Regions from separate parts of the Homo sapiens genome. Here region 2 is linked to region 1. The links come from fine-mapping of genetic effects on gene expression. A gene starts in region 1. The other region holds a variant in brackets. All regions are shown on one strand. Distances are between the middles of the regions.

Region 1 (12,069 bases):
TTTGTGAGATCCACCCCCTGCCCACAAAACATTGCTCCTAACTCCACCGCCTATCCCAAAACCTGTAAGAACTAATGACAATCCACCACCCTTTGCTGACTCTCTTTTTGGACTCAGCCCACCTGCACCCAGGTGAAATAAACAGCCTTGTTGCTCACACAAAGCCTGTTTGGTGGTCTCTTCACACGGACGCACGTGAGACATTCTGAGCCAAGCATGAGTGACCAATGGCCCACGACAAAGCCCTCTGGAGACTCTGAGAACCCATGTGTCCGTGGTGGTCAGGATGCAGCTTAATTTTTTATACATTTCAGGGAGACATGAAACATCAATCAGATACATTTAAGATATATATTGGTCCAGTTCAGAAAGGTGAGACAACCCAAAGGAGGTGGGGTTTGAGGTTATAGGTAGATTTAAAATTTTTCTGATTGGCAATTGGTTGAAAGAGTTATTACCAATAAAAAGGAATATCTGGCTTAAGATGAGAGGTCATAGAGACTAAAGTTTTATCATGGAGATGAAGGCTCCAGGTAGCAGGCTTTAAGAATAGACTGTAAATGTTTCTTGTCAGACTTAAGGTCTGTGTTGATGTTAAGCTGGTTGGCTTTTCCTGAATTCCAAAAGGGAGGAGGTCATAATGAGGCATGTTCGACCTCCCTCCAGTCATGGCTTGAACCAGTCTTTCAGGTTAAATTTGGAGTGCTCTGGCCTAGAGGAGGAGGCCCATTCAGATGGTTGAGGGGCCTTAGAATTTTGTTTTTGGTTTACAGCAGTAACTACAAGAATTTTTCCCAAGTTCTGTGAGCAATACTAACAAATTAATCAAGTGCAAGGAGGAGGTCATGGAAGCCTCAATTTACAGCCAATTGGAGAGAAGTATAGGAGACAACCTATTACTTGCGACTGGTCGTCTTGTGAGGCTGAACCCTCACCCTGTGGCATCTGATGCTATCTCCAGGTAGATAGGATCAGAATTGAATTGAATTAGAAAATTCTGCTGGTGTCTGCTGCAGAACTGATACATTGGTTGCTGGTGGGAAGAAATCCCCACATACTTCTTGGTGACCAGAGGTCACAGAAGTCTTCTGTGTTTATTGTTGAATGAGAGTATAGGAGCAACTGATTTTGTTGATCCCTATATTCTCAAACCATGTAACTCACTTCGACTCATAGAAACATTAGTAGAAGTGATGTGAGCAGAGGCTTTAAATGTGCTTTTGGGGCTTGGCTTTGCCTCTTGCACTTCTGCCATCTGCCACAAGATGAATCTACCTGAATAGCCTCTGGTCCCAGAATGAGGCGACACTTGGAATAAACCTAAACACAACTAGTAGCCTGGAGCCAAGTCTGTCTGGTTCCAGCCACCCAAGAGAGTCACAGCCAACCTGCACACCCATAAGCAATAAATATTTATTGTAGTAATGGACTGAGATTATGCGATTGTTTGTTACATAGCATTATAGTAGCGGACATCTGACTACGATAATTGCTCACATGTGAAACTGTAATCACTTTTTACATTTGCATTTCCTTTATCCCCATCGCTAATCCTTGTCAGGTCCTCTGAAGCTCCTTTGAATCATCTTCCGTATCTCTTCCCTGATTTCCATTGCACCATCATCACCCTTCATCACTTCATAGTTGGGTTCTTGCAATGGCTTCCTTAATGGAATCTTATTTCTTCCCCATCCAATCTTTTCTACACAGAAGTGCTAGCATGAACTGCCTTACAAAGTCCTTGCACAACAGGAAAACTCTGCTTGAAAGCCTGAAAATGCTTCCATCTTTTAGAGCCAAAACAGCCAAGCAATTCAGAGATATATATATATATATATATATATATATATTTTTTTTTTTTTTTTTTTTTTTTTTTTGAGATGGAGTTTCAAAAAAAGAGTTTCAGCTCTTGTTGCCCAGGCTGGAGTGCAATGGTGTTAGCTCACCACAACCTCTGCCTCCTGGGTTCAAGCAATTCTCTTGCCTCAGCCTCCCGAGTAGCTGGGATTACACGCATGCGCCACCACGCCTGGCTAATTTTGTATTTTTAGTAGAGACGGGGTTTCTCCATGTAGGTCAGGCTGGTCTTGACCTCCCAACCTCAGGGGATCTGCCCGCCTTGGCCTCCCAAAGTGCTGGGATTACAGGCGTGAGCCACTGCGCCCGGCCCAGAGCTATATTTTATGCACAATTGTAATAACTATTCTTAGCCTAGGGTCAGGTAAAATTATTTCCCCTGCTTTTCATAGCTCTTGCCTTTTATCTTTTTGGGATGGTCCTAGTGATTATGGGTCACTTTAATTTTTCTCAAATCATATTTTAGAAGCAACAGATAGAAGCTTCGCCTTGCATCAAGGGCAAACTTTTCTCCTTGATTTGCAAGCCCTTTCATAATTTGGCTTCACCTTATCCATTATTTGACACAAAATAACAACACTTATCCAACACTTACGGAATTGCTTATTGTGTGCCAGCCATCACTTTAAGTGTTCTGCACATGGTGTAGGTTAAGATTAGGTTCAACCATGAGTAATAAGGAGCCCAAATAACAGTGGCTTAAATAAGATAGCTATTTTCTCTCTCTCATGTAAAAGCACAGAAATAAGTAGCCAAGGACTGGTATAGTGGCTTTACTCATAAAGTCTTCAGGGACACAGGTTCCTTCTTCAGGGACACAGTTCCTCATTCTTAGGGTGTTGTCCTCATCCCCACAGGCCAAAAAAGCAACTAGAACATCAGACATCACATCCACCTTCCAGACAGCAGACTAGACGGTGCAAAGAAAAAAAGGGAGTAGAGTATATACCAAACTGGTGTGGCGGCTCACGCCTGTAATCCCAGCACTTTGAGAGGCCGAGGTGGGCAGATCACTTAAGGTCAGGAGTTTGAAACCAGCCTGGCCAAGATGGTGAAACCCTGTCTCTACTGAAAATACAAAAATTAGCAGGGCGTGGTGGCACATGTATGTAAGCCCAGCTATTCAGGAGACTGAGGCATAAGAATCGCTTGAACCCAGGAGGCAGAGGTTGCAGTGAGCTGAGACTGTGCCACTGCACTCTAGCCTGGGTGACAAGCAAGACTGTCTCAAAAAAAAAAAAAAAAAAAAAAGAGTACATGCCAGCTGCCCTTCCCAGGTAGCTGCCAGATAGCATCTGCTTATAATTCATTGGCCAGGCACAGTTATACAGCCACACATAGTTGCAAGGGAGGCTGGGAAGTAGAGTCTTTATCCTGGGCAGCCATTGGCACAGCTGAAAACTGGGAGTCTATTACTATAGAAAAAGAAGGAAGAGGGTAGTGTAGGATTACTGACAGCCTCTGTCTCAGATATATCCAGTCACTTAATCCTCCAGACAATGCCTGCAGATAGATACTATTCTTACGCTCATTTTGAATATAGGGAAACTGAGGCACAGAAAGGCTAACAACCTTGGCCAAGGTCATACAGCTAGAGTGAACTCAGGAGACTTGCCTCCAAAGCCTGTGTTCTTTGCTCCCCGTCACACAGCTTCCACGGGCGCGAGTCTGGCCCACTTGAGGCCCAAGGAAGTGCATGCGTATTCCCTAGCTGTGCCTTCAGCCTCTCCTCTCTTTCTAGAAAGCTGTATTCTGTTCCCTCCCCCTTCCTTCCGGGCTGGGGTTCAGGCTCTGCCTGCTCCTGGTTCTCACTGATGTCCTCAGCATCTTCCCCACTGTGACATCATTTTGTGGCTTACAAGCCCTGAGAGGAAGGGCCAAAGCCTTTATGCAGCATCCGGGCATTTAAGGAGTGCAACAGAGGGATGTGGGCGAGGGCGCCACCACTGGAGGACCTCCAGTCATGCCTCCTCCTGTTCGCCCCCCACCAAGGGATCTGCTTGACAAAGATGGCTGCCTATGACTCTGATTCTTTAGACAAGGCCCTGCATGGCTGTTAGGAGTTAGAAGCTTCAGCTCCCTTGGTCTGGAACACAAACTGGTCTCCTGTAGAATTTGCTTAGTGGGGGCAATGCTACTATGGAACAGACATGAAATATCATTCTTAAAACACAAAGCAACAACAGTATTCATCAAAGGAAATGATTTTTATTGTTACACAAAACATTTCTTGTCAGAGCACACATAAATCTAGACAGCAGCTGCATTTTCAGAACAAACAGATGAAATACCTTTGGTGAACTGTGAGTTGGGGAAAACAAGTCACCTTATTTTAAAATTTGGTAATGTGTTTACTGAGTTTAACAGAAATCAAAATCAGGACAGAGTGAGAAAAAACATTTCTGTGGAAACAAAATGCGTTCTCATGAGCACAGCCTATTGTGATGCTTATTATTTTACACAGAAAGAAGAAGAACTGGGTTCCATTTCCTGGGCTTGGGAAAATGCAGCAAACCCTGACCAATGCAAAGAAGGGCTTCCTGGGTCTGCCTCTTAGTCTCTGAGCTAACAGTGCTCCCCAGCTGCCTTCTGACAGACGCATATACCAGCTGACACATCCGGGAGCACACAGCTCACCTGTGTGTGCACAGGGCAGAGCCAAGCCGGGTTTATTCTCATCACGTTGTCGCTCCCACAGCCGCTCCTTCCAGTTCATTCTCACTGCTTCCATCGGGGCTACTGTGGTAGTCTGCCTGTCTTCGGGGCCTCCACCCCCACCCCACCTACAACCACACCGCCATTGAGGCTTAAAGGCTGACCTTTACCATCCACCCTTGAGGTGTACATTCTTACCATTTTTCTTGATCATTTTCAGAAGCGGAGGACACTCTCAAGTCCGCCCATTCCTTCTTGAAGGGTTCTAAGTTTTTCTATTAAACCCAAATCTGTGTTTCTCATAACATCCTCTCGGCTGAGATATAACTAATTAATCAGCTCCCTCTTCTAGAGCGTTTTCCTCACATAGAATTCTTTCTCTTTGTGGCAGACTGGTAATTCTCCTCCACATTGTCTGTTTCACCCTTCTTCAAAAGCAACAGTTTTAGCTGGGTTTGGGGTTACCTAGCATAAGACCATATTTCCTAGAGTTCTTTCTGCTGGGTGTGGCCATGTGACTAAGCTCAGGCCGATGTTATAGGAATAGAAGACATGTAAGCAACTTCCTGGTGATGTTTTTTTGTTTTGTTTTTTAAAGAGATGGGGTCTCACTATGTTGCCCAGGCTGGAGTGAGGTGGTGTGATCATGGCTCACTGTATCCTCCAACTCCTGTGCTCAAGTGATCCTTCCACCTCAGCCTCCTGAGTAGCTGGGACTATAGGTGCACACCACCACACATGGTTAATTTTTAAATTTTTTGTAGAGACAAGGTCTTGCTTTCTTATCCAAGCTGGTCTCAAACTCCTGGCTTCAAGCTATCCTCCAGCCTCGACCTCCCAAAGTGCTTGGATTACAGATGTGAGTCACTGCACCTGGCCTGGCTATGTCCTTAAAATGACTGGGTGGTACGTCTAGTTCTCTTTCTCCCGTTTTTCTGCCTGGGAGATGATGAGAACTGGAGCGGTCATCCTGAGCTTACAAGGGGAAGCCTTGTGTTGAGGAGGGCTGATTAACTGGACTTGGACCACCTGCCTACCTCGACCGTTGTGAGAAAAATTAACTGCATTGTGGTAAATCCTTTGCATTTTGGACTCTTTCTTACAGCAGCTTAGCCTGTACCTCACCTCCACTTATGAGCCTACTCATTCTGCAAATATTTCACCAGCCTAGAAAGAGCTTCTCCATCCTCTGAATCCAAAGCCCTTTGACCTGCCTCTTGTGTTTGGCCTCACTATTTACCTGGTACTACATTTGTCTGTGCATGAATCTTACCTGCTCTTTGCAGGCCAAAGAGGACAGGGGTAAAAGCTTAATCGCTTTCTATTACACAATGCCTAGCATATTGCCTTGGACAATGATTGGTTCCCAATAAATGTGTTGAATGAAGAAAGATGATTCTTCATTGTCTGTATACATGAATGAATTATAACAAAATTAGAAGCTAGTGATATTTGATTAAATAACCATATCTAAAAACTACTAGATAAGAGATTACTGTCAAGCTAGAGAATGAGGTGCCAAGTTGGCAAGCTACTGGTTTTTCTCCTGTTCAACATTTGTATCAACAACTTCAATGAACGATAGTCAATATACCCATTGTGCCTGTGGATAACACAACGGGAAGCCAAAAAAAAAAAAAAAAAACTAGATAAGAGAGTCAAAAATCAAAAAGATCTGTACAGACAAGAATAATGGATGAAAATTAAACATTAACAGAAAAGTTCTGAATATCAGTTCAAAAGTAGGCAAAGGGAAATAATGGAAGAGAAGTAGTTTAATTAAAGACTATGAAAAAGGCTTAAGGATTTTATTTGATTGGAAGTCTGGTATCAGTTAAGAATACAATGTGTTGGCCAAAAAATCCTAGTGCAATTCCAGGCTGAATACATTCATTCAGCAATGATTTATTGGGTGTCTACTAAGTGCTTGGTGTTGTGTGGAAAACAAGGATGAAGGTGTGGCCCCTGCTTTCGAGCAGCTTACAAAAGTGACATGTGTTCCTCCTAGACCACAAAGTAGAAAGCATTTGGTGCTGCAAAGTAAAAGAGACAGGAAAGGTCGGCACATGTATGATGAAGGGGAAGAGTGGGCTTGTGGAGAAGCACAAGGAATGATAAGGTAGGGAAGATATTTCAGTGCCAGTCTGTAGTAGGTCCTTAGTGCCAGGCCAAGAAGATTGGAAGTTATGTGAGGGGATGAGGAAATGAAAGATTTTGCAGCCAAAAAAAAAAAAAAAAAAGATGGTCAGTGTTTTAGGAAGATTTCTTTGGAAGCAGTCTGTTGGACAAATTGGAGTGGGGAGACACACACACAGAGGCTTATACTTGGCATCATTTCAAAGATTGATGTTCTTGTTCCTCATCTTCATTCTATAAGTGGAGAAAGTGAAGCTGAAGGTTTAAATGATGTCCCTAAAGACACAGAGCTGACAGGGGTATGCAGAAGCAGAATCCAGGATGGTGCTTCTGGGTCCAGTGGGTGATAAACCAATGGCAATTAGACCTTGCACAGTTGTTGGAGTTTAGAAAAACATTTCTGGAGGGACTTAAGGAAACCAGTTAAGAGATCATTTCCACAGGCAAAGTAAAAAATATTGAGCACTGAAAGTGGAAAGAGGGTCAGCTGGGGGAGAAACTGCTCTGATGCTGTGGGTTGAGAGGGAAGGAAGCAAGGCAAAGAGGACTTGGAGACAGAAGGACAGCAGTGGGATGAATGACCATGGGGAATACAAGGATGAAAAAGCAACTTGGAGGAGTACCATTTTGAGTGGGGCCAATTTTTTTTTTCTTTTTGAGACGGAGTTTCGCTCTTGTTGTCCAGGCTAGAGTGCAATGAAGCGATCTTGGCTCACCACAACCTCAGCTTCCCGGGCTCAAGCGATTCTCCTGCCTTAGCCTCCCAAGTAGGTGGGATTACAAGCACGTGCCACCATGTCTGCCTAATTTTGTATTTTTAGTAGAGATGGGGTTTCTTCATGTTGGTCAGGCTGGTCTTGAACTCCCCACCTCAGGTGATCCACCCGCCTCAGCCTCCCAAAGTGCCGGGATTACAGGCGTGAGCCACCGTGCCCAGCAACAGAGATTCTAGTGGGGCCCATTTTAACAGAAGGGGCACTGGAAATGAATGTGTCCAGAAGAAGGTAACTGGAAAGCAAATTGCAGGAATGAGAGAAGGAACTGCTTAGTCTGGGAAAGCCTAAGTTATTTGCAGAATTGAATTGAAAAGATTTCCGGGGAGAACAGATAGCTAGCATCCTACATCTGTAGAGCTTTTACAGAACAATGTTAAGTTGCCTCCTAACGAGCTTTAGCATGGCACCAGTGGAAGGCACTGTTAGATGGCAGCAATGCAGAGTTGTGGAAAGGCCAAGGGGCAGAAGATTTGAGGCAGATCAGCTCCTATCTGTGAAGCAGTATAGTGGGAGGAGCACAGACTTTGGAGTCACACAGACCTGGGTTCTAGTCCCAGCCTACCTCTACCAGCTATGTGACCTTGGGGAAGTTGCTGAACCTCTTTGTGCCTCAGTTTCCATATGTACAAAATAAAGAGGCTAGATTGGAAGACTTCCAAGATCTTGTCTAGCTATAAAATTCCTTGGTTCTAAAAAGGTGGCTTATGTGCATAAAATAAATAGATGGAAATACAGTATTATCTTCTTTGGATTTTGCTCTCAAATCTGTACTAATATTGGTTATCAAGTATGCACAGCCAGCCTGCTTCTGTTGCACTGCATGATGGCATGTAATGATGGAACAGAGCTGACATGTTCACAAAAGCACTTTTCTCTGTGGGTAGGAGTGGAAAATAGTTCCATTTAGCTGATATCACTAATTTTTAAAGAAAACCATATGAGCTAAAGAGAACTGAAGATGAATGTGGGAGCTATGAGTCAACCACTGAATCTCAGCTGCATTAATTTTACATTATAAATGACACAGTTTTAAAGTTTCTTAGATTTTATAATAGTTGAAATTTTTCTTTAAAAGAGTACACCCTATACATGCCGATACACGTTAAAAAGATTGAACATTTCTTCCCATTCTAAAGCATCTTGAAAACAATGACTGTGCTGTTAGCGATTTTTAATATAAAATACATTTCCTAGCAGTGTTATAAACCGCTAACAGCACTTTTTGTGAAAATTGGCTACTTCATACAAAAAAAACCTCACAGTTTTTGTTATCTTTGTAGGATTTTCTTCCCCCTTTTTGAATTGTTTTATAATGGATAATGTTGCTTAAAAACATCCAGCATTTCCATGAGAAATGAAATATTCAGAAGACTTCTGGATAAGTGATATTTATACATAGTTCCTTTAATCTTAAATACCTAACTCTTAAATAGCATATAAGAGAAATTGTTTTCCTTTACCGTCGTAGATTAAAAGTGGCATCACAAATTTTCAGGTAGGAAACTAAAATATAAGACCTAGAGATTATATAAGAAAGATCCACACTGGCCATCCTTACCTCAAAGCAAACTAAGACCCAGAGGCAGAGAAGAATTTCAAAGCCTGACTTAGAGGATTGTGGAAAATAATTATATCAAATCAAAGTTTAGGACAATCTTGGACCATGGAAAGAAGAAAAGAACATTTAGCACATTGTTAAAAATAGATACTCATTCTCTTTTAACCATAGACAGTTCTTTAACATCTTACATTAGCAACACAGACAGACTGGATCCAGTTTCAGTTCATTCTGTCACTTAACCATTCCACGACTCAATTTTTTCATCACCAAAATGGGGGCGATATTATTTCCTAGCAGGCTAAGTGTGCAGCTGACATGTGACGATGTGTGTGCAGTCCTTTGTAAATTATACAGCACTTCAAACACAGAGGTCTGCTGTTATGGGTCAAGACTGTCAGGAGAGCTCATGGTTAATGCGAATGACCCGGAAACGACTCGTAGCTGTTTAACACACATGTTTTTGGTATCAAAACTGCAAGCGGGATTGAGTTTGAAAGAGCATTATTAAGAGAAAACAATCTGCTCTGCAGATTCCAACTGTGATGTGGTGCCTGTTTCTTGGCACAGACCTCCCACTTAAACTAATTAAAGTTCCACACAGGTAGAAAATGAATGCTTGACTTGAGATCTGCCATGTGGACCTAAAAGATGGAATTGTCTATGGCTCTTTTATTTCGGTTAAAAGAAAGCAGCATTTGCTTTGTTTAAAAAAGAAAATGGGGGGAGGGGAATGTATGTGGGTTTGTTTAAATGCTGAAGAAAACTGTTCTAAGCAGCTGGATGAATAAAAGGGAGGAGCACTAAAGAAAGAATGCGCTAAATCTAAAGATACAAGAACAACACCCAGGAATTGATTGAAAATGCTTTGGTGACAAGTGAGGCATGTAATGACAAGAAAGCAGCATGTGTGCATATTGAGGAGTGCATGTGGAAAACAGGTTTCTCCTTTTAATTAGCTTTGCCGCTGGGAGGACCTTCTCTCTCCACTTTCTGTCCAGCTCTTCCATCCCAGAATTCCACTCTGGGTTCTTGTGATGTGCTAACGAGGCTGCAGGGCAGCTCTGATTGAGTGGGCCAATAATACTGGCTCAAGGCCACCTAGAGAAGTGTTCTCCCCAGCCTGACAGATGCCCTTTAAAGAAAAACCTGGAAGAGCACCAGCCTTTTTGATGGTGGCTTAGATACTTGAAGCCCGATGTCATTCTTTGGGTGAGATAATGATTCTTTCCTGCCTGGCCCACCTATAGCCCCTTCTGAAATTTAAAATTTTTCAGGAATATGTTGGAAAGTCTACTAGTTTTTCTCCAATGTCTGCCCTCCTTCTTTATTGATAGAATCTCAGTTTTTACTGATTGTACAAAATAAAGACATTTCCCAGCCTTCCTTGCAGCTGGAATGTGTGTGTGTGTGTGTGTGTGTGTGTGTGTGTGTATGTAAGGGGAAGTGCTGGGTGCAGCCTCTGGGGTGGGGTTATTCCTATCCTCCTCTTTCCTGCCTGGACCATGCAGATGAGGGCCATCCCCTAGAGATAATGAAGCAATAAGATGGGAGATACCTGGCAGTCCTTGACACCATGGACCCGCCATACTAGTCTTTGGCTGCAAACTCTCACGCTGTCATGGAAGATAAATAAACCTCAATACTGCTTAAGCCATTGAAACTTTAGGTCTCTGTTGCACACAGATGAACCCATAGTCCAACAAATGTATCTTCTTGACTAAATCTTACCTTCTTACTCTGATGATTTATATTCAGAGAATAAATTTAACTTTGTCTATATCTGGGGTAAAAAAGAACAGCTCTTCAATAAATCTGCTTCTCTCCAAAAATATTCCAGAAAATTCATGTGATTGGAAAACTGGGCTACTTAGTAGAAGTAAAAAAAAAATTTTTTTTTTCAGGGGATTCTTTGGGAAGCAAAGATCTCCAAAATTCAGTCTCCGTTATGTCTGCAGAATGCACTTAGTACATGTTTGGTCAATTCAACGTTCGTTGGTGAAATTGGCCAGCAAAGCTTGCAGAAACAGAGAATGTGAATGCACAGTGCATGACGGTGGGCTGAGCTTTGGACATCAACAGGGGAATAAAAATCAGTTCAGCTCTTGCTAAAATAGTTTTCCATTGTCTGAATCAGAACTGAGCACAAATGAGTCACCAAAGTTAAAGCTGAAAAACAACTAAGTTGGACTAAGAGTCCAATAAGCCAAAGCCAAGTCTGTTATATATTATTTTATGGAATTATGGGGATAAAGAGGCTTTAGAAAAGAGTAATGTGGAAGAATCTATGTTGGGCTTGTGTGTATATCTCAAGAAGTTTTCAAAAGTTCATGGAAAATATATATTATGAGAAAACTATGCATGTATTCAAATTTTTTTTTTTTTTTTGCCAGATAAACTCATACTAACTTTTTATAACATGTCTGAACAGAATCTAGTGTGAGGCTCCCAGAAGGGTAAGACATCAGCTTGAAAACAGCCCCTGTGAGAGGAACATGAATTTTGCTAAAATTGAAGCAAGAACAAATGTGTCAAGTTTACGGTGACACTTGAGTGAAAGAATGGTGAAACCACTGATGCTTTATGAAAACTTTAGGAGTATAATGTCCCAAAGAAATCAGCAATTTACAAATGGGTAACTCGTTTTAAGAAGGGATGAGATGATGTTGAAGATGAAGCCCATAGTGGCAAGCCATCCACATCAATTTGTGAGGAAAAAATTCATCTTTTTCATGCCCTAGTTAAAGAGGACTGATAATTAACAGCAGAAACAATAGTCAACACCACAGACAACTCAATTGATTCAGCTTACACAATTCTGACTGAAAAAATCAAAGTTGAGCAAACTTTCCCACAATGTATGCCAAAACCATTGCTTCTAGATCATCTGCAGACAAAAGCAGAGCTTTCAATGAAAATTGGAAACAAGTAACATCAAGATCCTGAAGCATTTCTTTGAAGTAACAAGAGATGAAATATGGCTTTACCAGTACAATCCTGAAGACAAAGCACAATCAAAGCAATGGCTACCAAGAGGTGTTAAGTGCTCCAGTCAAAGCAAAAGTATACTAGTCAAGAGCTAAGGTC
Region 2 (12,069 bases), 29 kb after region 1:
TTATTTACCTAGAGACCAAGGGTACACTTACAATTCTGCATTTTCAATATTGTCTTTTGTGCTTTTTAGAAAATCAAGACACAAATTACTTATCTCCAGTCTTCTGGATAGCTTCCTGTCCGTATCACTTTCCTAGACTGACACTGGTTCAGACTTAATGTCAAATTCTGCAAATTCCTATAGCCTTCTGAGTCATAATTCATCAAAGCCAAGTAAAAATCCAGTGAAATCATATGTCCTTTTAGTATTTCATCATATTGGGTTCATTTTCACAATGAGAGTTTTACAAAATACACAGCAAATGAATAGGAGTTGCTCAGGGAGTGCTAACACTCATTCCTTGTTATTACTACTTAACTGAAAACAAGTAAATAAACTTCCTTTACTATTTTTCAGGAACTTTTTGCCCTTCTAAAATTTAGTCTCCTGACACTATTTTTTTATAGTTTGTAGTCTTCTTTCATATTTATTACTGTATATTCCTTTTCCCACATTAGTACATTTAAGTGCTGAGGTTCATGGAAAAAAAAAAAAAAATCAGCATTCGAGTTGAGCCCTGAAGAGTAAGTAGCATTTCCACAGCAAGAGACCAGGGTTGAGTGGGGGAGAAGAGAGAGCATTTTAGTCCTACGAAAAAGCACAAGCAGAAATGGGCAAATGTGAGAAGGGTATGTGTAAAGACACACTGTGTTAATTTCAGTAGAGGGAGGAGGGATAGGAAGACAGTGGGAAGAAAGCTAACAGCTATTGAGCATTTATGATTGCACAGGTGGTGTTTATACTCATTATTTCATTTGCTTGTTAACTTAAAACAATCATTTGAGGGAGGTATTAGTTTCTGTATTTTTTTTTTTTTTTTTTTGAGACAGAGTCTCACTCTGTTGCCCAGGCTGGAGCGTAGTGGCACGATCTCAGCTCACTGCAACCTCTGCCTCCCAGGTTCAAGGAATTCTCTGCCTCAGCCTCCCAAGTAGCTGGGATTACAGGCGCCTGCCACCACACCTGGCTAATTTTTGTATTTTTAGTAGAGACTGGGTTTCACCATCTTGGCCAGGCTGGTCTTGAACTCCTGACCTCGTGATCCACCCGCCTCGGCCTCCCAAAGTGCTGGGATTACAGGTATGTGCCACCACACCTGGCCAGTTCCTGCATTTTATAAGGTGACTAAAGATAATGCAACTCAGAAAGGTGAAGTAACCTGTCCAAAATGAGAAAGGAAAAAGCAGAGCCAGATTTGAACTTAGGTGTTTTCCATTTTTCTCACTGGGTCATTCGACTACAGCTTTAAATTCTTATGTTTGGCCATTTTCTATCCTATTTAAGTAAGAAACTCTGTTGCTATCAGAAATGTTCCTGGCTATTCAAAGCAAGGCTTAAATACAGTCTATTTTGTTACTATGAAAATCCGCATACATAAATATTAAATAATAGAACCTAATAAAAGACAGATCCCAAACATGAAAGGTTATTTTGTTACTGTAACTTACTAAACTGACTTAATCTAATAAAAATACTATTTCTTCATAGTAGTCAGGTAACAATAAAAAACATATTTCAATAGTCTTGAATAAAAAATATGCCTTAAATGCAAACTGTGGATTTATACTTTATCTGATAGTTAAGGCTTCCAGCAAGTGGTTCAGACAGAGCCTACAATTTTGTTCTCTGTGTAAAATAAGTTACAGGTTTCATAACTCTAGTTATCTGGTGTTTCCTGGCAACTCTCAGTTGTTCCAAGTTTACTGTGGATAGCAGATTGAATATAGTCAGAAGGCCCCAACAAATAAATGGGCAATGGACAATTCACAAAATAGTAACTGTATCTGGCTAACAAATGCAGTTAAAATATTCCTGCTCCACTAGAAATCAAGGAAATATACAAGGGTTAACCTACCAAATTCAGGAAAAAGTGCTAGTATTCAAACAAAGGTAATGCAGTAACATGCAAAACATCATTGGTCAAGTATTGCCTGGTCCTATATACTATACGGTCTGCAACTCTGGTTCTCTCTCATTTGCTATTTTAATAAAGTATTGTACACTTTTCAGAAGAGCTTTAAAGTTTTATGATGTGTAATTCTAAATGTAGAAATGAAGCCTTCTGCACAAATAAGAGAAAACCTAAATGTCCTACAACAGGAAAATGGTTAAAAAAAACTACAGGTAATCTACCCAATGGATCATTATGCAGCCACAAAAATTCCACTTAGCACAGTTTATAACACGAAAAACCCACCTGTTATGTTGTTAAATGAAATGGCAGAGTACAAAGACATAATATGAAAAAAGTGACTACAAAATTCAAAAACATGCATTAATTTAAAAAAATCTATGTGGTAAGAATGAGAGAGAGAGAGAGAGACAGACATGGATACTATTCCTCAAAATGTTTTGTACTGGTCAATTTGTAAAATCCAACCTTACCACAGTCTTCACATTTTTATATATGAGATATATTTCAAAATGTGTTACTTTTATAGTGAAGTAGAAGACAAGAAATGTCGTGTATAGCCACACTATAGTCTGGGGTTATTTAGTGCAGGGACAAACATCCCTAAATACAGCTTTTTGGGCATTAGTAGTATCACTGCATTAGAGCACAGCAAAATTCTTGCCCATTAATCTATATTCATAATAACCTAGAATAACCAAAAGTTGTATTATGATAGTAAACTGTTAAATAGAGAAACATACAAGAGGTTGTAAGAAGATCTCCATCAAACCAGTATCGACACAGTATTTCATTAATATAAATCTTCCTGACATACTTTCATCATGTCACTCCCGTTCCCAAACCCTGAAAGAGTCCCCAGTGTCAGGAGTAATTTGAACAATTTTCTGCAGTGTGCACGCATTGCACAATCTGGTCCCATTCTAACGATTCTCCCCACTCTCATCCACGGGATCAAAGGCTCTCATTCACAAGCCTTGTGCTCGGGCTTGCCTACTCACTTTCTCTCAAAGAAACTTTATGTACTTTTGCTCAATCAGCCACCCACACCTTGATTTCCCTATTCCTTCCTACTCCTCCCTCAGCTGACTCCCCATACTTCCAGGCACAGACTGCCCTCTTCAACCCAAAGCCATCCTATATACACATAAACGCACACATGTACATATACCTCATTAAGTTATTGTCTATAAAACACACCAAGCACTTGGCCATATAGCCTAAAATTATGTAAATAAATATATGTATTATCTCCAGAATGCATCTGAATTTCCAAAGATTAGGGAACTTTGCTATATTTCTTTGTATAATACATTGCTTTTATATAATACTTTACAGCTCACAATGCAACTTCACATATATGATTTTCAATAAATACCTTAGTGACTTAAACTTCTCAAAGAGTTCATCCTAGAAAGATCTGGGATAAAGATATTCTTCCTCCCTACAACCCTCAAATAATATTAGTTAATGACAGAATTAACAATTACTTCATACTGAAGATATTCCCATGTGAATATAAAGAAATGACCAAAGTCTGTCTCCGAATGTGCAGATTTTAAATTTGGAGCCATACGGTATTCAAAGAATAGAAGCTAAAAAATGGCTATTCAAAAAAAAAAAAAAGAAGGATACCTCAGTAAAAAAAACTTATCAAAACAACATTTAAAATAAAAAATATTTTCAATTTAACATGGCAATCTACAATTAAAAATGACAGGTTGAACTTTTATTTAAAAAAGTCTATTTTCTTTGTTAAGTAGACAGATGTTTTCATTAAACCTACAAACTGAAGGCTCTTAAGATTTTTCTGAAACTTTTACAATAAATAAAATTAAGGTAGCCTAAACTATTTCAGAATGTGAAGTCACAGTAAACACAACTCCCTGGTGTTGATCTTCATTGCCATATACTGTTAAAAAGTACATGACCAAAAAAGTACTCTGACCAAAACTAAACCAAACACTTTCCAAAAAACCAGAAATCTAGTACAAATGAATTAATTCAGACTGGGTGGTTTAAATATAGTATTTCAGTTATAGTTTGGACTGTGTTTGATCACTGTGTTATAGAAAAAGGCCTTTATCCACATTTAAAAATAGGTACAGTATATTATATATATATATATATGGAGAGAGAGAGAGAGAGAGAGAGAGAGAGAGAGTGAGTCTCGCTCTGTTGCCCAGGCTGAAGTGCAATGGTAAGATCTTGGCTCACTGTAACCTCCGCCTCCCGGGTTCAAGCCATTCTCCTGCCTGAGCTTCCTGAGTAGCTGGGATTATAAGCATGTGCTACTAGGCCCCGCTAATTTTTGTATTTTTAGTAGAGATGGGGTCTTGCCATGTTGGCCAGGCTGGTCTCGAACTCCTGACCTCAAGTGATCCATCCACCTCAGCCTCCCAAAGTGCTGCGATTACAGGCGTGAGCCACTGCACCTGGCCACATTACATATATTAATGAAAATTAAAAACATGGGTTTTCCTAGGTAAAATAGTAATGTTGATAAATTCTATCTTATGCTGCATCTCAGGTTTGAATTATGATGTCATTAATTACCTATATAGTATCTTTAATATAAAACTAAAACTTCAAATCTTACAATATCATCAAGGACTTACCCATCCAATTCAATTAACTGACCTAAGTATTTTTCATAATTGTATTTTTATGTTAATAGCCAATCACTTCCCCCTTTCCAACAATTCACACTTATTCTATACAGTAAGGTTTCAAAATGACAAGTTTTTTTCCACCCAAGTATTCTACAGACCTCAAAAAGGGAAAGACTGCAGGGAAAACGAGAAATGAAAGAAATCTCTTGCTACCCTCAAATCTACCAACCTATACTTAAGAGCCAATTCTAAGCTCAGAAAGGAGAAAAAAAAAAGTGGGAATATAAAAACCTCTTAAAATGTAGAAGAAATTAGACTAGTTTAGTTTTCTTTAATATCTTCTTTAATAAGACATTACAGCACACAACTGAGCCCCCAGTGTGTCAGTTAAACATGGGGATGAATATCCATGTGAAGAGAATGGAAACAAGTTTAATCTTAACCCCATTCCTTTTGGCAAGTAATAGAAATACAGCATACAAATGGACCAATTCTCTCTCAGTGTTATTTTATCAAGTCTTTGAAGACACCATAACAGTTTTATAATGAACTTTGCTGCAATCTGTTAAAGAATCTTCAAATTAAATTACAGGGATGTTTGGTTTTTAACTCAAACACAGTAAAATGGGGATTGTACTAATAATCCCCTCATGAAGTATAAGGATGATTATGCTCATGTAAGATCAATGCAGCTATTTCCCTATCACTGAGATATAGTGTTAAATATGGTGTCTTCAGCTGCTTATAAAAAAGGGTTAAATACAAGAACAAAAAAACTTTCATCCTGAATTAGTCACTAAAACAAACGAAAAAAAAAAAACCAAAACTTGTGAATGGTTTTATATGATTTGTCACTAAACATATACATATGCTCAAAGCACTTTTAAAAACTTTTAAGTTGTGATTTAACCAGAACTTCTGCAATATCCACAAGAAATTAGGTAAAATTCTAACGTTCTGGTAATCGACATGTTAGGAAACAACAGATATTACATCTGAAACTTAGGAAATAAAATACACAAAATAAAAGGACTATTTTAAAGTAAGGGCATAAGAATAGGAATTGCTAAGAAACTATCAGCCCTGAAGCTTTTCCTTGGAAACGTCTTAAACTTACAGGGAAGACAAGGTGGGCAAAATATGCAGAGCTACAAAACAAAGCAATGATAAGCTACAGCAGAAGAGGGAATGCATTCTGTAATCCACAGGATCAGATAAATGGCTCTAAGCAGTTACCAGTAAGTATTTTAGTGTTCTTTCTATTATATTAATTTAAAAATTTAAACCGAGTTAACAGCAGTTTTACAAGTTAAGAGTTGACACAAGCAAATTAGAAGAACTCTAAAATTAGCCTTCCTTAATTGGGTAAGATTTACCATATCCATCTGAACAAACCCATTTTCCCATCCTGAGATCTAAAAGAATGTGAATATTGACCCATTTTAATACTTTTCAAGTTCAGATGGAAGTCATACTGTACACCAGTCTCTGATTTTAGGTAACAGCACAAAGCAAACTCCTAAAATCAACAACTCACTTAGAAAAGAAAGGAGGGAGAGGGTTCTGGGAATTAATCCAGCCACAAGTCATTCCAATCTTCCTGTTAATGCAAAATCCATTTGTAAAAATGGCCAAATAGTAACTTCCAAAAACCTCAAAAATTAATGTTTCAATTTCAAATTAAAGAACTTCAAGAATTTTCAAAGAATATAGTATCAAGATCGACCTTTACCAGTTCACATTTGTTCCATATTTTGCATTAAACAATAGGCTTAATGATTATTTCATTACGGCATATACATTAGAACCTAACCTTTCACAAGGGCTCACTGACAATCCAACCGCTTTTAGGAAGCTATCAGTTATCTACAGGGTACACCTGACTGGCAGTTAGAGCCAGGTCATACTGCAATTTTAAATATTCCAACTCAAACACAGGAAATGATCAGAGGGGTACAATGACACATAACCGCAATATACTAAGGCAGCAGATAAGTCATTTTTCACCTAGATCATCAGCTGCCCATAAAATCGTATGCACAATTTTAATGAATCAGTCTGCTCTAGTTTAACTGAGGAACCTGCCACTGAGCAGAGAAAGGGATATAAGAATTGCACTTGCAATTCTAGCTGATGAATTCATTAGATTTTTATAAGGCAAATAATGTGGAAAGTTAGAACAGAATTTCTAAAACCATTTATCCTGTGATGTCGTAAATCAAAGTACTATTTTATTAAATGAGTTATTTTACACAATATGAACATCAATATAATTACAATTGTAAAAAAATTTTTTATAACAAGGATGGACTGATTTTCATATTTCCAAATCAGAGTCAACTGTACATTTACACAGAATTGTCTTTGCATGAAGCCCAAGAGGGAACAGCATAAAAATGAGTGTTTCTGTAGCCCCTTTATTTTTGCTGATCAACAGTTTGTTAGAAAAGCAGCTGCAGGTATGTTACCTAAGGTCTGAGACAGTAGAAGAGTCAAAGGTGTCATGAATTCACCTATAAAACATAAGCAAAATTTTCAATGAATGTTACCA[T/C]TGCACAAATGCAACTTACATGCATTTCAAATAACTAAGAAGAAACACTATGAAGATAATATCTGGTAAACTTGTCAACTCGACTTTATATACAGAACTCTGAAGAATTTATTTTAAAAAGAAAGAATTCTGAAACACACAACACACCCACCACCAACTCCACTATTTAGGGGGAAAAAATCCAACCAAATGTAATGTGTAAAGTGATAACTTTCAACCAACAAATTTATAAACAAATTTATATAGCACATATCTACATCTACATTTTGCCCTATATTTTAATACTCAGAAGCTTTGCTAAGGGGATAGGTTGGGGGAGAAAAAAAAGAACCTCTGCTAAGTACTATAAGTAAACTAATTGTAAAGAGGTGCTCAGGAACATTGGTGTACATTGTTTTTAGAGGGAAACTCTCAAATAACTTTGTAATCACTATTTTCTTTAAACTGATAAGTTCCTTCCATTCTTTGATCAGAGATGGCTAGCATGTACTCATCTCCCCATTTTTGGCTACAGTAGTAAAAATTTGGATGTTTCAAAGGCATTGAAAGGAAATAGTCTGAGAAAAAGGGACTTTTCAGTTACACATTAACTTAAAAAGGGGAAGCAATAAAATCTCAGAAGGCAGAAATTAATTTCACAATAAGTGAAGACAGTTTTGGTCTTGTATACAACCCTGTTATTAACAAACCAATAGAAAAAGAGGTGAGTTACCTGTAAACAACCTTATGCCTGAACATCAGCTAATTCTGGAGGAAGTGGAGTCTTAGGATGCTTGCTCTCAAAGTGCTGCTTGAAGGTCTTAGGGTCTGGCATTTGTGTCTAACAAAAAATTGTGCAAAAGAGAGCTAGACTTTATTTATAAAATAAAAATGTGTTACTTTTTAGAATCCTGAACCTTCTCAGTATAGACAATTATCCCAAAAACACCTTTAAATTCCTACAACTTAGTGACTGGCATATGAAGAGGGACTTTGTGGTAAAGAAATTCCTAACGTTCCCACATTTCACCTATAAAGAAAGGTAGGTCACATAGAATGTATTCTGCTTATCTGATTAACAGCAAACAATAGGTAACATTTACTGAACCCTTATTATATTAAGCATGTTACCTTAATTCCCACAGAACCTTCAAAGTAATCTTTAGCTCCTACTAGCATCATTTTACCTGATAAGGAAACTAAAACCCAGAGTTTAATTTGCCCAAGACCTTATTTTAACTTAGTACTAGATATGTGACCTCTCAAATACTATACTATACTGACTTCCCTTGGCAAGAACCTTCAATTATTTATTCTTAACCCATTAAATTACACAAAATATGAAATAAAAGTCTGTGGTTTTGAGTTTTTAAATATATGTAACTACTCTACCACATTTAGATTAAGGTATTTCTTCATTACTAGTTGATTAAAATTTGCACCCTGCCTCTTTCCAAACAATCACAAGCTGCTCAATTTCATTATTTTGAGTGTATATGTAGTGTACTAACTCCACTATGGTTTCCTTTGGTACTGCCACTCACTAACTTCAAGGGTAATGAGCTTAAACAAACAGGCAAGAGGCTCTGATTTGGAATTTCAGAAGTACTTCTTTGAGAGGCAGTACAGTAGTGGTCCAGAGGGTGGACTCTGGAGCTGAACTGCCTGAGTTCAGATTCCAGCTCTTCTACTAACCAGCTGGGAGACCCCACACAAATTGTTTAATTTCCATTAGTCAGTTTACTCTTCTGTAAAATGAGAACAATAAAAGTACTTTATCTTATAGGGTTGTTATGTGGATTAAATAGGTGAATACATGTAAAACACCTGGCTCTATGTGTGGCATATGGTAAGCACTCAAAAGTAGCTGTTATTATTACAGTTCTTCAAATCTAATACAACACATTAATTCTAGGAAAAGCTCTCAACGTGATTATACTCTATATGGTTTTACAGACATCCTAATTATAAATTTAGTGAAGAAAAAACCAATTATATAACTAGAGGTATACTTACTAGCATATTATATAGCTCTAAGAGTGTAGAGTTATATGATGTGCTAGTGAAGTGTATTATATGCCCTTATGAAGACATCTTTATTTTATATGAGGAAAGCAATTTTGTTTTGTTCACTCTGTTTTCCCAGCACCTAGAGATTTTTGCCTGGCCACAGGAGCCATTCAAAAAATATTTGTTTAAAGGGTGAATGAAAATAGATACCTAAAATAATCAGCTCTCAAACCTACTATTTCATGTAAAGCATCTATTTTGCCATGGTTTCAAAATTTTAATCTATTCAAGCCAAAACTGCCCACGGGAGAGCTGTATCTTTCAATTCAATTCCCCTTACCCTACAGACAGTGCAGGTATATATTAAGGCAGCTTTGGCAGCAGCCTTTTGGTCATGTCCTTGTTTCTTCTTTTGTCCAGCTTGCTTTTTGGCATTTTTCTGCTGAGACTGAATTTTCTGCTGTCCACGAGCCATATCTAAAAACAGAAGGTGAAGCATTAGAGTGGCTTATTTACTCTAATACAGAGTAATCAAAGCATAAGAACGTTCTTAGAATTGAAGCCTTAAGTTTTATAGAAATATCTGGCAAATAAAAATTTATAGGTATTAAAATTCCCACATATAAATGCTACAAAAGTATCAATTGACACAACCCTGTGGAAAACTAGTTGGTAGCTGTTTATTCTATGAGCCAGCAATTCCACTCTTGGTATATACCCAATAGAAATGCAAATGTTATGTACACCAAGACATGTACAAAATGTTCTGAGTGCCCATTCCAAAACTGGAAAAAATCTGAATGCCCATCAATAGTAACACGGATGCACAACTTGTATACATATTTTTATAGTATTTATACAACGGAATACTACCCAGCATTTAAAAAATTGTGGCCAGGCGCGGTGGCTCACGCCTGTAATCCCAGCACTTTGGAAAGCCAAGGCGGGTGGATCATGAGGTCAGGAGTTCAAGACCAGCCTGGCCAAGATGGTGAAACCCTGTCTCTACTAAAAATACAAAAAAAAAAAAAAAAAAAAAAAATTAGGCAGGCATGGTGGTAGGCACCTGTAATTCCAGCTACTTGGGAGGCTGAGGTGGAGAATTGCTTGAATCCGGGAGGCAGAGGTTGCAGTGACGCGTGATGGCACCACTGCACTGCAGCCTGGGCGACAGTGAGACTCTGGTCTCAAAAATAAATAAACAAACACACAAACAAAAAATTGTTACAAGTAACAACTTGGTTGTATCTCAATGTTAAAGGAAAGAAGCCAGTTGTGGGGAATATACATTATTTAAAGTTCAAAACAGGCAAAGCTAATCTATAGTGAAAGGGGTCACCTTGGGGGTTATGGGTAATGACTGGGAAGACAGGACATGAAGGGGACTTATGGGGTCCTGAAAATGTTCTTGAATCAAGTGTGTTTACTTATAAAAATTCATTGAATTGTACACTCAAGATTTATGCACTTTACTGTATGTAATCTTCACAAGTTTACTAAAAAAGTTTAGCCCCCGCTATCATTTACTTGATCACTCTGCAAAAGTAATTTCCCTTCCCAGTATTCATTGTGACTTGCGATTGTGATTTTTATAACTTTAAGAGAAATAAAAGCTGTCTGTTACTCCTTCTAAAGGAGACCTCAGAAATAGGTGGAAACTGTTTTCTTACTTAGTTTTCATAAAACTACTGTTATTAATTTTTTTAAAAAGTTGGTCTTGCTGGATTGCTGAACAAATTATAAAATGAGATTATCAGCAAGCCACTAATTCCAGAAGTTTCTTTGCTCTCTAGACGTTAGTTCCCATTTGAGGGAATGAACTTGGTTAAGAGGGTTCTTTTACAAAGCTGAAAGATACCACTTTTTGTTACCGATGATCTGACGTGAACCCAAATGGATTAAAACAAAAAAAAAAATCAAGTCACTGAAAAAAGTTACTTTTACTTTTCCATTTAAATTAAAGGCTTTTATTCGACCACACAAGTTAAACCTGCTCATAAAGTCTATCATGAGTCTCAATTGCTTTTTAAATATATCAAAATTGGATCCTAAGTAGAATTCATATATATATAGTTTTGACTAGTACTGTAACTGAATGTAAATCATTGCAGGACAGGAACATACAATGGATTTGTATCAACTTCACCAGGGAAGGGTGCTAGCTTCTTCTGACTAGGACCATAATTAGTTAATGGATATGAGGTCAAAGCATTTCATAAAAATTACTGAGCTCCTCCTGTTCCCCAAAAAAGGAAACTAAAAAAATACACTGATTGGAGAAGTTCCCACTAGCATTAAAAAAATGAACTGAAAGTCAGATAAAATATAAAAGAGGGTCAATGCTTTTCAGGATAGTCAGCTGACTATTTCAACTGAGGAAATATGGGGTTTTTATATTAGGGTAGCACACGAGCCTAATACATTTTCGTAATTGAAAATGTTTAGCGTGCTAGCCTAATATGAGAACCCCATTCCCACCAAACAATGGTAAATATTACCAGCTGTTATCAGTCCTTGAAGACTAAGCTTCCATTTTTGCTTTAAAAAAAATTATTAATTCTAAGCCAAATGGCACATTTTTTTTAAAAGTGTATTTAAGTCCGATGTTACCGCAAGCTTACAAACCTATTCCCATGGAAACAGGTTTGGATACTTATGTATTATTTGGACGACAGTAGTCACGTGATCAGCCTTTATGTATACCAATGTTTTGCAAGGTTTTTTGTCTCAATGTCTTACTATCAGGACCTTGTAACAAAATAGCCAGTCTTCTCACACATCTTAACTCTTCGACACAATGTATTTTATGTATCTTAATACACTGATTTTGTGGGAAATCTTGTTTTATGTTAAAAAAAATCTTCAAAAATGGTAAGCCACTAATTTCAGAAGTTCCTTTGCTTTCTAGAAGTTACTAGCTATTTTGATATTTCCATGTTGTGACTCGTACAAAGCAATGTCATTAG

What was found. PIP is the estimated chance that this variant, and not a neighbour inherited with it, causes the effect.
Region 2: its variant is fine-mapped to the expression of ZNNT1 in whole blood (TOPMed, PIP above 0.99). The same link has a PIP of 0.9 or more in lung and unexposed skin.

The regions. Positions count from the first base shown.
Region 1 is chr8:101,162,760-101,174,828 of GRCh38, forward strand. ZNNT1 (ZNF706 neighboring transcript 1) reads right to left here and starts at 7,480. Exons shown (of 1, transcript NR_164368.1): 1 at 4,046-7,480. RefSeq lists enhancers at 3,642-3,936, 4,522-4,721.
Region 2 is chr8:101,192,164-101,204,232 of GRCh38, forward strand. ZNF706 (zinc finger protein 706) reads right to left here. Exons shown (of 4, transcript NM_016096.5): 2 at 9,444-9,580; 3 at 7,827-7,934; 4 at 4,889-7,076. The coding sequence starts at 9,578. The coding sequence ends at 7,839. Among named protein-coding and RNA genes, the nearest start is that of ZNF706, 7.5 kb to the right of the region's middle. The variant T/C (reference allele first, on the strand shown) is at 7,115.